Linked DNA regions of Homo sapiens. The protein of the gene in region 3 interacts with the protein of the main gene of each other region in a biochemical or structural test. Each region holds a gene or a part of one and is shown on either strand. Other genes may lie near its edges. The genes, in order: TRIM50, TRIM31 and NLRP3.

Region 1 (3,176 bases), on a different chromosome or scaffold from region 3:
CTGGGTATGGTGGCAGACACTTGTTGTCTCAGCTACTCAGGAGGCTGAGGCAGGAGGATCACTTGAGCCTGAGAGGTCAAGGCTGCAGTAAGCTACAATTGTGCCACTGCTCTCCAGCCTGGGTGACAGAGCAAGATCCTGTCTCTGAAACTAGACTCGAGGCTGGGCACGGTGGCTCACGCCTGTAATCCCAGCACTTTGGGAGGCTGAGACAAGTAAATAATTTGAGGTCAGGAGTTCAAGACCAGCCTGGCCAACACAGCGAAACCCCATCTCTACTAAAAATACAAAAATTAGCTGGGTATGGGGCACATGCCTATAATCCCAGCTACTCGGGAGGCTGAGGCAGGAGAATCACTTGAATCCGGGAGGTGTAGGTTTCAGTGAGCCTACATCGTGCCACTGCACTCCAGCCTAGGTGACAGAGAGAGACTCCATCTCAGGAAAAAAAAAAAAAAAAAAAGACTCGAGCATAAAGCAGTATGTATAGCAACTAATATGTGCAAATCATTTAAAGAGAAAGAAATAATGTCAAATTTATTATCCTTGATAGTAGTTGAAAGTTCACAGTAATATGGAAAAGGTATACATGGGACTATTTCTGCCCTCGGAAGCGTCTGCGCAGATAGCATGGTTAGCAAGTGGCAGGAACCATGGGGATTTCAGTGTGTCCCTGGCTGCCAAGGCCTGGGGGCCGAAGTTTACAAATACACCCTTGGCTGAGGGGAAAGGGACTGGGGTCCTGTTCCCTATCATTACATGTTCCAGGGACACACAGGCCTGAAGACCTTCCTAAACAGTGACGATATCACCTCAGGCGGGACCCAGCAGAAGCCCGCGAGTCCCCGGTGCCCCGCCGGGATGGGCCTGTGGGCCGGCAGGACTCCGGGCGGCCCTACAGCTTGGTGGGCTGCTCGGGGCTGAGGGGGCCAGGCCCGCTGGGCGGGGGCAGCACCATGGGCAGCGAGTTGCTGCCCCTCTCGTGCCAGCAGGTGTCCAGGATGGGGTAGAGCTTGCCCTGGAAGTCGGCCTGGAAGGTGTAGAGCGGCCGCAGGTCATCGGGGCGGTCGGCATCGAAGAAGGTGAGTTCGCCCTGCTCATAGTGCAGGTAGAGCCCGATGCGGTGGGGGTGGCCGGCCACGGGCAGGGGTACCCGGGGGCAGGCAAAGGCTTCGTACACCCGGCCCTCCTTCAGGCCGATCAGCCACACGCCGTGCTCGGGGGACCTGTTCAGCTTGCCCTTACGGCTGGCTGTGCCCTTGATGACCCCCAGGCGCCAGTCGCTCTTGCTGCCCACCACCACCTCCCAGTAGTGGCGGCCGCAGGAGAAGCCGCGGCTGGCCAGGACGCAGGTGCTGTAGTCGAAGCGCTCAGGCTGGCTGGCTCGCCGCTGGGCCAGAAGCCCGCACTGCACCACCGTGTTGCCCTTGGAGAGCTCCAGGAGTGGGTGGGCAGTGGCAGGGTCCAACTTGAGAGGCTCCGGGGCTGGGAGGGAGATCACAGAGGGTCTGTGAGGCCACGTGGAGGGCAGCAGACCCGGCCCACAGAAGCTGATGGAGGCCCTGAACTCCCCAAGGAGAGGGGCTGTGTCTTCCTCATCTCTCTAGCCCCAGGGTCTAGAAGGGGCCAGTACAGGGCTGCTCCCTGAATGAATGAATGAATGAATGAATGAATGAATGAATGAAGTTTTACATAAGGAAGATCAATCACAGACTGATTGCATCCACCCAAGGCAAAAACAGTGTTTATATAAAAGGGAGCAGCTTGGTGGGCTGTGGGGGGCTGAGGTGGCTGGAGAAAGAAATGGACACTGGGCTCGGGGTTCTGGCCTGCCTGCCTGACACAGAGGTGTTGTGGGAAGGACCCGGAAGACACCTGTCCTGTGAGCCTATAGCTCAGCCCTCAGGGATTTCTGGAGAACCCATAACAACTGCAGCTGTTGGATTTGCTAGCCTAGTCAGCCTATTCAAGGACGAACTAGCCCACCTGAGCTTTTTGCTAGTTACCAGCTGATCCGTTTACCCCAGAAATGTGAGATGTGCTCCCCCCTGCCCGCCTCCCACCCCTTCCCGCCACCCAAGTTGCCGCAAGGAAAGAAGGCCAAGGGGAAGAAGGTGGCTCCGGCCCCTGCTGGCGTGAAGAAGCAGGAGGCCAAGAAAGTGGTTTATCCCGTTTGAGAAAAGGCCTAAGACTTTTGGCACTGGACAGGACTTCCAGGCCAAAACGGACCTCGCCCACTTTGTGCAATGGTCCTGCTCGGTCAGGGTGCAGTGGCGGACAGCCATCCTCTATAAGTAGCAGAAACTGTCTCCTGCTATTAACCAGTTCACCCAGGCCCTGGACCGCCAAACAGCTATTCAGCTGCTTAAGCTGGCCCAGAAGTACAGACCAGGGGCAAAGCAAGAGAAGAAGCAGAGACTGTTGGCCCTGACTGAGAAGAAAGCTGCCAGCAAAGGGGATGTCCCCACTAAGAGGCCACCTGTCCTTGGAGCAGGAATTAACACCGTCACCACCTTGATGGAGAACAAGAACGCTCAGCTGGGCCAGGCACAGTGGCTCATGCCTGTCATCTCAGCACTTTGGGAGGCTGAGACAGGCAGATCACTTGAGGCCAGGAGTTTGCAAGCAGCCTGGCCAACATAATGAAAAACCCCGTCTCTACTAAAATACAAAAATTAGCCGGGCGTGGTGGCACACGCCTATAGTCCCAACTACTCAGGAGGCTGAGGCAGAAGAATCACTTGTACCCAGGAGCCAGAGGTTGCAGTGAGCTGAGATCACACCACTGCACTCCAGCCTGGGTGACAGAGACTCTGTCTCAAAAAAAAAAAAAAAAAAAGGAAGGCTCAGCTGGTGGTGACTCCACGCAACATGGGTCCCATCAAGCTGGCTGTCTTCCTGCCTGTGCCTGTGTGTAAAGTGGGGTCCCTGACTGCATCATCAAGGGGAAGGCAAGACTGGGATGTCTAGTCCCCAGGAAGACCTGCACCACTGTCGCCTTCACACAGGTTAACTTGGAAGACAAAGGAGCTTGGGCTAAGCTGGTGGAAGCTACCAGGACCAATTACAACAACAAATGTGATGAGATCCGCCATCACTGGGGAGGCAGTGTCCTGGGTCCCAAGTCTGTGGCTCACATTGCCAAGCTCAAAAAGGCAAAGACTAAAGAAACTACC
Region 2 (3,652 bases), on a different chromosome or scaffold from region 3:
AGTGAAATTAATTTTAATAAAATATTTTAACTCAATATATCTGAAATATTATCCTTTCAGCCTGTAATGAATATTTTAAAAGTATTAATGAGATATTTCACATTCTGGGTTTTTGGTGGTTTTTTTTTTTTTTTTTTTTACACTGAGTCTTTGAAATTGTGTGTATATTTTTCACTTTGGCACATCTCAATTCAGATGCTAAATTGTCAATTGTTAAAGTAAAATATAGTCTTACCAAATCAATAAAGTTGTGTTTAATGGAAAAAGTACTTTACCCTTCTTCTATTTATTTTATTTTATTTTTTGAGATGGAATCTTGCTCTGTTGCCCAGGCTGGAGTACAGTGGCGCGATTTTGGCGCACTACAACTTCCGCCTCCTAGGCCCAAGTCCCAAGTAGCTGGGATTACAGGTCCCCACCACCACGCCCAGCTAATTTTTGTATTCTTAGCAGACACGGGGTTTTACCATGTTGGCCAGGATGGTCTCGAACTCCTGACCTCAAGTGATCTGCCCACCTCAGCCTCCCAAAGTGCTGGGATTACAGGCGTGAACCACCGTGCCTGGCCTCTATTTTTAATTTAAATTTGAATTAGTAAAAATGAAATTAAAAATTCAGTTCTTTGTCACACTAGCCACAATTTCCAATGTTCAGTAGCCACATGTGGTTGGTGGCTACCATATTGGACAGTGCAAGTCTAGCTGGTGCTTAAAATAAGCTGAGATGATTCCTCCTCAAGTCATCTATTCTCCCACAGGTTCAAAAACCTATTTATTTATTTTAAGAAAGATCATGCAAAGCCATTCTAGCCTTTCTCCTGCCCTGGCTAGCAGGCTCCCTTGTTCAGTCTCAGAGCCAAATTCATCTTCTAAATCTCACTCTTCTCTTCTTCACTCAGTTCTTCTTGAGGTCAAAACACTTTTCTGCTTACTGGCAGAGCAGTGCTTCTTGGAGAAGCCCTTCGTGGTGGGGAGAGGGGAGGAGGATGGGGTAAGAGAGACTTGGAGGGGTTCTTACTCCTCCTGCTCTGCCCCACACCCAGCAGGCTCTGTATCTCCTCCTTGGCTCCTGGGAATCAGCCAAGTGCTGAGGCTGTGCTGTTTCTCTTTCTCTTCTAGGATATCAAAGTCGTCTTGTGCAGGTATGATGGGCCACCCCAAATGTATTTTGCCTACTGATTCATCCACACACAATTCTCAGCGTATATCCAAATGCAGTCAACATTCCTCTCTCAGAAATACCCACCCACCTCTAACTCTGCATTCATACATTTAGGCTGCAGCCGGGGAATGCCTATGCCAACCATATTAGCACGTGGTTGGTTGTTAAAGAAACCAGCTGTTTTCTCAGCCTTCCTCCTTCTTCAGCACAGATTCTACTATTTCCTGAATGCCCCCTTGCTCAACTGAATAGCTCCTGGGTCCCCTACTCTGTCTCCCTGACCCTGTTTTTTTCCCTCCTCTCTGTCTCCATCTCCCATCTTCATTTCCATATCTCCCTATGCCCTACCTCACTCCCGCCCCATATCCCTAGCCCTGACTTTCTGACTCCCAGCTCACTATCCCTTAACCGCCAGGTCTTCTTTTTTTTTTTTTTTTTTTTTTTTTGAGATGGAGCTTTGCTCTTGTTGCTCAGGCTGGAGTGCAGTGGTGCAATCTCAGCTCACTGCAACCTTTGTCTCCCAGGTTCAAGTGATTCTCCTGCCTCAGCCTCCCAAGTAGCTGAGACTACAGGCGCTTGCCACCAAGCCTGGCTAATTTTCATATTTTTAGTAGAGACCAGGTTTTACCATGTTGGCCAGGCTAGTCTTGAACTCCTGACCTCAGGTGATCCACCCGCCTCAGCCTCCCAAAGTGCTGGGATTACAGGTGTGAGCCACTGCTCTCAGTTCTACCCCCAGGTCTTCATCCCCTCATTTCTCAACCGCGTATCTCAGATCCTCCTTCTCCCACACCTCATCCCCTGATCTCACCAACCAGCTCAACCACATCTTCCTAGAAGTGAAGAGTTTCAGTTTCTCAACCCAACCCCTGTTCCTCTGGAACTGGAGAAAAAACTCAGTGAAGCAAAATCAAGACATGACTCCATCACAGGGAGCCTAAAAAAATTCAAAGGTAAGGAAGAGGCTGTATTTTCTCTATTCACCTACTTCCAGGAGATTCTCTCCCTGCTCACTCCACTGAAATGGAACTGTGACTCATACATGCCAACAATCCCTGGGCCCTTCTAGTGCCAGGCTTCTGGCTGAGTACTTTCCACGCATCAGTATGCCTCCTCCCAGGCATTTCTTATATTCTGTCTTTGTGATATGTTATTTATCTGCCTCCCTGACTCCTGCGAGAGCCATAGAGGGCCTGGACCTATTCCCCATGTGGACACCTGGCCTAGAGCAGTGGCTGTTGGGAAGTTGGTGATGAGTTGTCTGGTGGACCAGAGATGGCCTCAGGCAGGGACTGTCATCTCTGACTTCTCCTTCTCTGGTGCACACTGGTGTCTCCTCCTGCCTACAGAAGAAGAGAAAATAAATTCAAAATCAGTGACATTCTGGGGAGAAACCTCTTCCAGCCTTACAGGGAAACAGAAATCAGCAGAACAGTAGTGGATGACTTGGGTTTTAGATGTTCGCCAGATATTTTTCATAAACCTTTCTGTGTTTGCAACTAGGAAGAAGGGTTAGTATTTGTAAGGACTCCCCTTAATGTGAAGACTGTGTTGGTCTAAGGTGGGCATAAAGACAGCTAGATGGAATCTTCTGAAATTATCACCTGGAGTTCCACACCCACCTCCCCCACCCCAACCCCCAGCCCCCCATACACAAACACTTCCCCTTGGGACTACGGAAAAGGAGGACCAGGGCAATGCCCCAAGATCTCCACCCATTCAGCCGGGAATCTCCACTCGGCAGACATAAACAGGAAAGCATGTTTTGTTTTATTCTTAATTTTGTTGTCTGAGCTTTTCTTTTGTCCACTAACTGCTCTGCTTTGTCTAGCTCCTCCCACCCCACTGGGCATGATCTCAGCCGATCTAGCAACTTTATTTATTTGTTTATTTATTTATTTATTTTTGATGGAGTTTTGCTCTTATTGCCCAGGATAGAGTGCAGTGGCGCAATCTCGGCTCACTGCAACCTCCGCCTTCTGGTTTCAAGCGATTCTCCTGCCTCAGCTTCCCAAGTCGCTGGTGTTACAGGCGCACACCACCATGCCCAGCTAGTTTTTTGTATTTTTAGTAGAGACGGGGTTTCACCAGGTTGGTCAAGCTGGTCTCGAACTGCTGACTTGTGATCCACCCGCCTCAGCCTCCCAAAGTGCTGGGATTACAGGCGTGAGCCACCACGTCCAGCCCGATCCAGCACCTTTCTAGGCTCTTCAGGTCAAGAATAGTTTGGTTCTAGTTTGGAATTTCAATAAAGGAGCCCAGCCCTTTCCACTTCATCAGGTTTGGAGTTGGGGAGACTGGTGTGCTCTACTCTGTATCCCCCTTTTCTTTCCCTCTTTCACATACACAAACTCACACACACACAGTCCCCCAACTCCCACCTGGCCCTATTTCCTTCTTTTTTTTTTCTCTTATTTTTATTTTATTTTTACCCCAAAGAAGAAGGCACAATGGCCACCTGGCCCTATTAAAGCCTAGGAAATACAGGAGG
Region 3 (3,652 bases):
AAATGCTCAGCATGTGTGACCCTTGAGCAGTATTGAGACAGGCAGTACACAATATGCAGCCAGAGATGAGGACCCAAAGTTCGAGAGAAAAAAATGTAGCTATACCTAACACATAGGCTATACCTAACACATAGGCTATACCTAACACGTAGGCTATACCTAACCCATAGGCTATACCTAACACACAGGCTATGCCTAACCCATAGGCTATACCTAACACACAGCCACATGTATGGCTGTACCTAACACATAAAATGCATAAAAGTCTCGACTGATTAATGCCACTTATAGATACCTATCTCAAAGCAAATACACATGCATAAAACTATATATACAAATGTGCTTTTTGCAGAGTTGTTTGTAATAGTGGAAAAGAACAGTTATCCCAAAATGCATGATTTGATTAAATAAATTATGGTAAAGCACACTATGGGATATTATGCCCCAATCGATAGATCTACACAAATCAGCATGGAAATTTATCCATGATAAATGAAAAAAGGATATCACAGAAAAATATTTATATTATGGTTCTAGTTTCAATAGATAGGGTGTTATGGATTGAATTGTTTCCTCTAAGACTTTATATGTGGAAGTCCTAGGCCCCAGTACTTCAGATTGTGACCTTATTTGGTGATACGGTTACTGAAAATGTAATTAGTTAAGATCAGGTCGTTACAAATCTAACATGACTTGTGTTCTTTCACAGGGAAACTTGGGACATGGAGAAAGACACACACAGACACAGGGAAGACACCACGTAGAGATAAAGGCAATGGTGTGGCAGAGGCATCTACAGGTCAAGGAATGGCAAAATGTGTCAGCAAGATGACATTCCACCAGAAGCCAAAGAGAAGCATGAACAGATTCCCCACAGCCCTCAGAAGGACCCAGCCTGCTAGCATCTTAATCTCACACTTCTGGCCTCCAGAACTGAGGGACAATAAATTTCTGTTGTTTAAGCTGCTCTGTTTGTGATACTTTATTACAGTAGCTCTAACAGACTAGGCATTTAAAATACTACATAACAATGTATTACAAATGCAACATGAAAATCACATAGGTCTTCATTCACATTACTGATATAAATACCACCCAGATCAGCATATACAGGAAATCCATTTGTCCATAATTAGCAACCAATATATGTTCACAAAGCTCTGATACTCCCTTGGATGGATTGATGGATGGATGGATGGATGGATGGATGGATGGATGGATGGATTGACGGATGGAAAATAGAGGGATGGATGATGGATGGATGGATGGATGGACAGATGAATGGATTATATAACAATCTATTGTATTAAAAAAAGTCTGGATGGTTGTTCATCAGACTATTGTAAATGGCTCTCTCAGAAGAGGGCTGAGAAGGAGCTTTCACTTTCCACTTTGTCTGTACTATGATATGTTTACACCAAGCATGTGTTACTTTTCTAATAAAAAGTTTGTGAATGATATCTGGGTTTGAGACCTACTGTTGTTGAAATTGAGAGGTATATGAGAATTCTCAGGGAGTTTAGAAATATTTAGTAACAACAACAACAAAAAAGGTAAACCAGGCGGGTGTGTGGCTCACGCCTGTAATCCCAACACTTTGGGAGGCCAAGGCAGGCAGATCACCTGAGGTCAGAAATTCGAGACCAGCCTGGCAAACATGGTGAAACCCCGTATCTACTAAAAATACAAAAATTAGCCAGGCATGGCAGTGCACACCTGTAGTCCCTGCTACTCAGAAGGCTGAGGCAGAAGAATTGTTGGAACCCGGGAGGCAGAGGTTGCAGTGAGCCAAGATTGCGCCACTGCATTTTAGCCTGGGTGACAGAGTAAGACTCCAACTCAAAAAAAAAAAAAAAAAAAAAAACACAACTAAACCAGTCGTGAAATCCCCAGACCACAGGAAGAGAAGCCAATGCAGGATCCAGGGAGGGGGAAGCTATAACATTAGCAGGAAAGACTAAGTAGTGACCTAAAAATAAGAGCGAAGAAGGCTTCCAAAGAGGAAGAGTGAAATGAATTAAAGGCAGCAGATGTCAACTAAAGTAAGGACTGGGAAGGACCTGTACGACCTATAAGGACCCAGCCTGCTGATGCCTCAGTCTCAGACTTTGGCCTCCTGAACTGAGAGGCAATAAACTCTTGTTGTTTAGGCCGCTCTGTTTGTGATACTTTATTACAGCAGCTCTACCAGGTTAGGTATTGACAATAGTAACTACATAGAGCATATTACAGATGCATCAGGCACATTTGTAATTGGCTTGTTTGTCATGTGGAATTTGGAACCAGGATCACTGAGAGTCACCTGAGTGCCTACGCCTGGGCCTCTTCGGTTCCATCTGCTTTGCCTGGAGGGCTCTTCCGGCTCCTTCACAGCCCATCCCACGCTTCACTGAGCACCTGCTCCAATGTCACCCGCTCGGAGAGGCACTCGCCAAACGTGAGCAGAGAAGCACCCCTCGCCGTCACTCCAGTTTTTCTTATAGCTCTTATACACAGGGTATATTGTTTAGCATGTCTATTATCTGTTATCACTTCCCTAAAAGAACGGTTGTGAAAACAGGATTTTGGTCTGTTTTACTCACTGCTGCTGTCAGTGCCCACCACAGAGCCCCCAGAGGGCCTGCAAAATGAAGGGACAAAATCATGTCTGTTGAACAAACTTAGAGAAGCAGAAGTCAAATTGCCAAGGAAGAGTAATATTCTAAGGCGATTTGCTAAGGAAGGGTAATACCCTAAGGCGAGGAAATGAAGGCACTGCAGGAAGACTTCATAGAAAGAGATATGGTCACATCTGAGGATTGGCTGATGGGAGAGGTCCAAGGAAGTATCAGAGCTTTGTGAACAGAGGTTGGTTGTTAATTATGGATTAGTGGATTACTCCTCTGGGAAGACCTTTCCTGCCAAATTTTGTCTTGAATGCTGATCTGGCTGGTATATATATTAATAATGTGAATGAATGAAGACCTATCCAATTTGCTTATTGTATTTGTAGATATTATTGTCAGAATGAAGATTCAAAACTGCCTAGTCAATGGGTCAAAAGACAGGTAAGATGAGGTTTAGCAAAGCTAAATTGGAGGTCCCACCCTTAAGCTGAGAGCCAGATGAAGAAGCCCTGTAGAGAGCCCATTAGCAACATCTCCTAAGGCAATGCACTGGGAATTAAGGCAGTGGCTTGGGAGGTCACAGACGTTTGTCTACACTGAGTTCCACTACCTTCTCTCTGAGTGTCCTTGGACAAAGTTATGAGGCTCCCTGAATTTTATTTTCTCCTCTTTAAATTGGAGACACAGATACCCTACCCTATAGCATCTTTCTGAAGCCAACTGAGAAAATCCATGTAAGAACATGAAAGAGCAGGTGATACAGGGAAAGTGATACAGGAAAGTGGTACAGGGAAAGTGCATGATTATTAGTGGGTATTCCCTACTACTGTTTACTGCAGAATTCCAACATGAATCAAAAGGCTTATGTAACTGCCAAAAAAAACAAGGAAATCAGAGATTCCACCAGTGAAACCATAGTTCTCTGCAACAGGAGGTAAAACATCCACCATGCATCATCAGGTCTGGGCACCACATTTCAAAGACAGACACTAACAAACCAGCCTGTGTACCTGGGAGAGCATGGCTACATAGGTGAAGGTGCTGAG

The links.
Region 1: the proteins of NLRP3 (region 3) and TRIM50 form a complex in vitro, tested with the Homo sapiens proteins (one study listed by BioGRID).
Region 2: the proteins of NLRP3 (region 3) and TRIM31 form a complex in vitro, tested with the Homo sapiens proteins (one study listed by BioGRID).

What each region holds. Positions count from the first base shown.
Region 1 is NC_000007.14:73,312,026-73,315,201, forward strand, and holds the end of TRIM50 (E3 ubiquitin-protein ligase TRIM50), read right to left. Parts: intron 1,645-3,176; coding exon of another isoform or gene 1,604-1,644; exon of another isoform or gene 1,486-1,603; coding exon 896-1,485; 3' UTR 511-895; downstream 1-510. UniProt on the Homo sapiens protein: E3 ubiquitin-protein ligase that ubiquitinates Beclin-1/BECN1 in a 'Lys-63'-dependent manner enhancing its binding to ULK1. In turn, promotes starvation-induced autophagy activation.
Region 2 is NC_000006.12:30,106,515-30,110,166, reverse strand, and holds part of TRIM31 (E3 ubiquitin-protein ligase TRIM31), read left to right. Parts: intron 1-1,118; coding exon 1,119-1,141; intron 1,142-1,979; coding exon of another isoform or gene 1,980-1,998; coding exon 1,999-2,114; intron 2,115-2,379; exon of another isoform or gene 2,380-2,504; intron 2,505-3,652.
Region 3 is NC_000001.11:247,436,591-247,440,242, reverse strand, and holds part of NLRP3 (NACHT, LRR and PYD domains-containing protein 3), read right to left. Parts: intron 963-3,652; exon of another isoform or gene 710-962; intron 1-709. UniProt on the Homo sapiens protein: Sensor component of the NLRP3 inflammasome, which mediates inflammasome activation in response to defects in membrane integrity, leading to secretion of inflammatory cytokines IL1B and IL18 and pyroptosis.